2 separate regions of the Homo sapiens genome follow, and region 1 is linked to region 2. Evidence: fine-mapped expression QTL. Tissue or cell type: whole blood. Region 2 holds a variant in brackets; the other region holds the start of a gene. All regions are shown on one strand. Distances are between the middles of the regions.

Evidence for each region.
Region 1: it holds the start of MAX, and the variant in region 2 is fine-mapped to the expression of MAX in whole blood (TOPMed, PIP above 0.99).

What each region holds. Positions count from the first base shown.
Region 1 is chr14:65,100,917-65,103,826 of GRCh38, reverse strand. MAX (MYC associated factor X) reads left to right here and starts at 1,310. Exons shown (of 5, transcript NM_002382.5): 1 at 1,310-1,523; 2 at 2,255-2,281. The coding sequence starts at 1,488. RefSeq lists enhancers at 896-1,045, 1,739-2,239 and a silencer at 1,376-1,725.
Region 2 is chr14:65,077,171-65,080,080 of GRCh38, reverse strand. MAX (MYC associated factor X) reads left to right here. Exons shown (of 5, transcript NM_002382.5): 4 at 2,045-2,168. Among named protein-coding and RNA genes, the nearest start is that of MAX-AS1, 11 kb to the left of the region's middle. RefSeq lists an enhancer at 1,703-2,678. The variant C/A (reference allele first, on the strand shown) is at 1,548.

The sequences.
Region 1 (2,910 bases), 24 kb before region 2:
CACAAGAATTGTGTGTGACATATCCCCAAATTTCCACATTCAAAAGTCAGGGATAATATGGTATTCATCCGGGAATCAGTAACTCATGGGAAAAGCTCAAGATGTCATTCACTTTGGAGACCAGATGTAAAGGAGTAGTATGGGTACTTTGTCTCAGGGTGGAAAGTGTCTGTTATGGTTTTCTTCCTTCCCATGGGACTTGTTGCACACTCTTACAATGGCGGCAGGACCGGCACGCTTGCTTGCACAGCTGTGAGCTGCATGAAGGCAGGGATGGTTTTGGTCTTATCCGTTATGGCATCCCCTTGTGGCAAGTTAGGTGTTCAATAAATATCGGTGGAATGCATGTGATTACACTTCATGCCACAGTATATAAATATGATTTTAACTGGACAGGGAACTGCAAAAGTTTCCCATATTGATCCTTTTTGCAATCTTAATTATGGTACTCTGAGCTGGGATATTGCCTAAACTGTCTGGGCTACAACAAACTCTGAAGGGGCTTTTACTTCCACGTCCATAGTGGTTGAGGGTTCGCGTTGTGTGAACGCTGGAGCCTCACGTGAGTAGCTGAGTAGCGAGGATGGTCACTCCCAGATAAACGAATACAGGATTCTCGCGGCTGGGAGCGGTCGCCCGGCGAGGTCGGTCATTCTGCCTGTCCGGTAGCACCACGAAACACCTGCCACTGACACCTCCCCACCAGCCCCCGAGGGTTCGCGCAGGCATCCCGAGCCGCGCCCCCTGGTCCGCCGCAGCCAGATTCCCTCCCGGGCGGGTTACGCCCCTAGGCGCAAAACGGAACCACTCCGTATGAAGAAGACAAAGTATAACCAGTCACACCAAAGAGAGGCAGCATTATTTAGACAGCCGGCTACTCCCCCAGAGACTCCACCCAGTCCCCTGGGCCCGGCGTCCAGCGCGCAGACGGTGCCCGGCTCCAGGAGTTCCAGCTCCCTCCACGTGTCCTGTCTTCCCAGCAGCCTCCTCTGCCGCCTCGGGAGGAAAATCTCCTGACAACTCGCGGTCTGCGGACTACGACTCCCAGGAGGCGCCGCGCCGCGGCTCTCCCCGCCCCCCCCCGCCCCCCCCCCCCTCCCCGGGACGCGCAGGCGCCTTGGGCTCCGTCAACAAGCCGGGCTGGCGTCGCCTGGATGCGGTTTCTTCCGGGATTTGTAGTTTTTCTGGAGCTACCCGGGCCGTCTGTTAGAGGGACAAGAACTACAAGTCTCGGCTGCCCCAGCGCTGCGAGCCTGGTCACGTGGCGGGGGCCGACCGGGCGTGCGTGCCGCCGTTGATCCGGTGCTGCAGTGAGGAGGTGGTTCTTGCCCGTGTTGTGTGTGTGTGTGAGTGAGAGAGCGAGTGAGTGAGTGAGTGAGTGTGTGTGTGGGGGGGACTCGGCTTGTTGTTGTCGGTGACTTCCCCCTCCCCTTCACCCCTTCCCCTCCCCGCCGCCGCTGCAGTGGCCGCTCCCTGGGCCGTAGGAAATGAGCGATAACGATGACATCGAGGTGGAGAGCGACGTGAGTCCTGGGGCTTCTTCCTTCCCGTGCGGGTTGTCAGGCGGGGACAGCGGCCGGGGCTCTTAGCGGGGCGACGGCGGGAGGGGGCCGGGCTGCCGCCGCCTCCTTCCCCTTCCCCTCGGGGCCAGGAGTGCCTCCGTCGCGTTCCCGGTTCGCTCCCCTCCGGCTCCTGGCCGGAGCGGCCTCCTGGGACTGGAGGTTGGGGGAAGACACGCGGCTTCTGGGACCCCCACCTCCTCCCTTGCGGGAGGGTGCTGCGGCCTCCCGCTCCCACCTTCCCCGGCTCAGGATCCGGGGGACAAGGATGGGGGGCGCCCGGGATCCCATTGTCCGGATCCAGGGGAAGGGGACGGCGTTCAGGACCTGCCCCTTCGGACTGCGATCCTCTCCTCCCGTGACCCGCGGATCCTGGGGGCCGGGGAAGGGCGGAGAGGGGTTGGGGGTGCCTAGATGCCCGAGCTGGGTCTGCAGGGAGGAGACAGTGCTCGGGACCCCTCTGGCCCAGGTCGGATCCCGGAAGGAGGGGCGGCGCTCGGGACCCCTCTACCCTGCTACCGGATCCCGCCGAGGGTGGAAGGGTGGGGGCAAGGGGTGGGGAGGGAGGAAGGGGTGTCGGGCTGACTCCCCACCCTCCGCTTCCTCTGCCGCCGGCATTTTCTTTCTTATTATTGAATGTTAAGTGTAAAAATAACTTCTATATTTTCTATTTTTTTTTTTCTCTCTTATTCCAGGAAGAGCAACCGAGGTTTCAATCTGCGGTACGTCTCCTACTCTCCATTTCATTTTTATTTCCGTTCAGTTCTATTCCTTTTTGGGGTCAGAGAGAAAAAGAGATCGTACTATTACTTTTAATATTGTAGTAAACTCTAATGTTAACCACTAAGGTGAGGTGGGGCCTGGTTCTGGAGGGTGGGGGGGTTGCAAATCCCATTATTCTAGATTCTCAGGTGATAAGTTCAGTGATTCTAGGTGAGTAAGAGGAGCTGTATGCAAAGAATTGAATTGTTCTGTAGTTTTCAGATAGGGGATCCAGATGCCACTATGTAAGTGGAAATGAGAAATGCAGCATTCTGGTCTGGTAGTATTATTTCAGGGCAAAGTGGTCAGAAGATTTATTTAGGAACAAGTAGGTTTTAAACCATATCTGTATAATTGTGTGAAGCTGAAGCCACATGCGGTAATCGCCTTTAACCAAGTCATGTGACTGCTATAGACCCGTAGAATCTAGCACAACATGGTATTCTAATGCAAAAATTGGAAATGTAGAGGAGCCAAACGTTACATCATCAAAGTGTCACATAAAGTTATTATGGTCTGATTCTCTGTATTTGAAGAAAAGGTATAAAGAAAATTAAAAAATAGCTGAAGAAAAGTGGCATTGCAGAGA
Region 2 (2,910 bases):
CTAGTCAGGTTACGCTTGTCAGCACTGCCCTGTGATATTTCCATGTATAGACATATTTATCTCCTCAACTAGATAGTAAGTAAGCTTTGGGGCAAAGAAGCCATGACTAATACATTTTGTTTCCCCACAGTATCTGCCTAGTATCTTGTACGTAATTTGCACCTGATAAAAATGGTTGATTATGAACAATTTCCTTGAGGAAATTACCTTAAGGGTGCTAAAGAGGAAAGCCTGGAAATTCTAGTACTTGTGAGGACTTATGAATAAGCACGGGCCTTACAAACCTTTCTGAAACTCAGCCCAAACTGAGGCCTATAAATTGAGATTGTTAGGATTTAATATGAGTAGATCTGGTTTTGCTAGCCACGGTGTACATGTTTTCTTTGTCTTTCTCCCGCTGTTGTGTTCTGGTTGTTTAGGACCCATTGGGCTTGTAATACAGAATTGTCAAGCACTCCCTACCCTGAGTAAGAAGCTTTCCGGCTGCTCAGGAGTCTCTGGCTGGAAGGCCATACTTAAGCTACTAGGCTACCCCGCCTTGAGCTTCGCTTGGCTTTGTACTATTCTACCAGTTTGGCTGGCTGCCTGGCCATAAGTAACTCTGACTATGTTTGTAGCCTGGAGAGAATCTCCCAGACAAGTTTGATGTCTAGGGGCACAGTAACATGACATCCATGTTATTGACTTACGAACTTACTCTAGCAAGGCAGTACCCAGGCAACCCACAGCCATTGTAGAGGTGTGGTTGTTTCCTGAAATGGCCCAATCTCATGCTCTTCCTGTGTTGACATCAAGCACCGACAGCTTTTTATGAAAGTCTCTTTAGCCAGGAAGGCTGAAGTAGTGACACAGCAGCATTGTTCAGTTCGGAATAGTTAACAGTGGTTTCAGAGTTTGGCTGGAATCTTGGGTCTTGATGAAACACATTGTACCCATTCCTGTCTCAAGCCAGGCCCTAGCAGAATTAGTGACCTAAAGCTTTCATTTAAGTAGTATTTTAATGTTTCCAGACATAGCCAAGCTAAAGACTTTAAAGCAACCTAAAGAACCAGAGGAGATGGGAGGAGTACAGTTCAGGAGTCGGATGGCTCTGAGTTTAAAGCCAGGCCATGCTACTGTGCAGCTGGTGATTTTGAATAAAGCGGTGTACTTCTCTGATCCTTGGGTTCTTAGTAGAGCTACCTCTGAGACTAATCTTGTGAGTTAAGCTCTGTAAAGCACTTGGCACCTTGTATGTCACAAAGAAGGCCTTCACGGATGCAGTGGCTCACGCCTGTAATCCCAGCAGTTTGGGAGGCCGAGGTAGGTGGATCACCTGAGGTGAGGAGTTTGAGACCAGTCTGGCCAACATGGTGAAACCCCATCTTTATTAAAAATGTAAAAATTAGCCAGGCAACGTGGCATGTACTTGTAATCCCAGCTACTCTGGAGGCTGAGGCAGAAGAATCACTTGAACCTGGGAGGTGGAGGTTGCAGTGAGCTGAGATCACACCACTCTACTCCAGCCTGGGCAACAGAGCGAGACTACGTCTCCAAAAAAAAAAAAA[C/A]AACAACAACAACAACAACAACAGGCTGGGCGCAGTGGCTCACACCTGTGACCTATAATCCCAGCATTTTGGGAGGCCAAGGTGGGCAGATCACCTGAGGCCAGGAGTTTGAGACCAGCCTGGCTAACATGGTGAAACCGCATTTCTACTAAAAATACAAAAAAATTAGATGGGCGTGGTGGCGCACACCTATAATCCTAGCTACTCAGGAGGCTGAGGCAGGAGAATCACTTGAACCCAGGAGGCGGAGGTTGCTGTCAGCCAAGATCACGCTGTTGCACTCCAGCTTGGGCAACAAGAGCGAAACTCTGTCTCAAAAAAATAAAAAAATAAATAAATAAATAAAGCCTACAGTAGCCATTATTGTATTTCTTCAGCCTTTTCCCACCTTACCCTCTCGTTTCCAGCCACCCAAGCAGTTGCTGCAGGCCAGGTTCCCTCACTGCCTGGATTGGGTTTTTATTTTGTCCCCTGTGCTTTTTCTCATATTGCCACAGGCATCCCGGGCCCAAATCCTAGACAAAGCCACAGAATATATCCAGTATATGCGAAGGAAAAACCACACACACCAGCAAGATATTGACGACCTCAAGCGGCAGAATGCTCTTCTGGAGCAGCAAGGTGAGCACCCGAGCTCGTGGGGCAGCTGGCCCTGCTGTGCTCCAGCCAGGTCAGGCTTTGGCACCTGGGCCTGCAGAGTCAGAGCCAGTCATGGAGTATGTGCTCAGTAGCAGGCTTGGTCCTGCTTCTTGGGGCCTGAGTAACTGAGTGTTAGAGCCGTCCTGAGGAAGGACCTGAGGCGCCAGTGAGGAGACAGTGGAAGCTAGGAAGTTGGACATCTGGAGACTTGTATCTTTTCTGGCCTGACCTCTCCCCTTCTTGGGGCTCAGGTGCTCTGCCTGCAGTAGGGATCACACCTGGCATCAGGTGTCTGAAAAGAGCTTTGAGGTCCTTGGAGTGGAATGTGCTGTGTAAGTACCAGAGACTCCAGGTGTTCAGGGACAGTGAGCCCTCCCCATTGTCAATGGTAGTCCAATCAGGGCAGCCTATGGGCTAGGCCCATGCTGTTCTCAATGCTCACACCCGCCTTTTCCTACAACCACAGGGGAAAGCGAGAGCTGATCAAGTTCTTTGTTCCTGGGGAATTCACTTCTCTTCCTCCCTCATGGAAGATGCAAGTAAAAGGAAATGCAAGTAACCACCTGGGTTAGAAAACCTCAAATAAAATAAAATAAAATAAATTAAATGGGTTGACCTTCCAGGCTCAAGCTGAGCTGAACCAAGGGATGGGCAGTGGGTGGTGTCAGTGGGTTGGTTACTGGGCCAGGCAGCCTGCATGTAGGGGCTATTTGAAAAGCCCAGG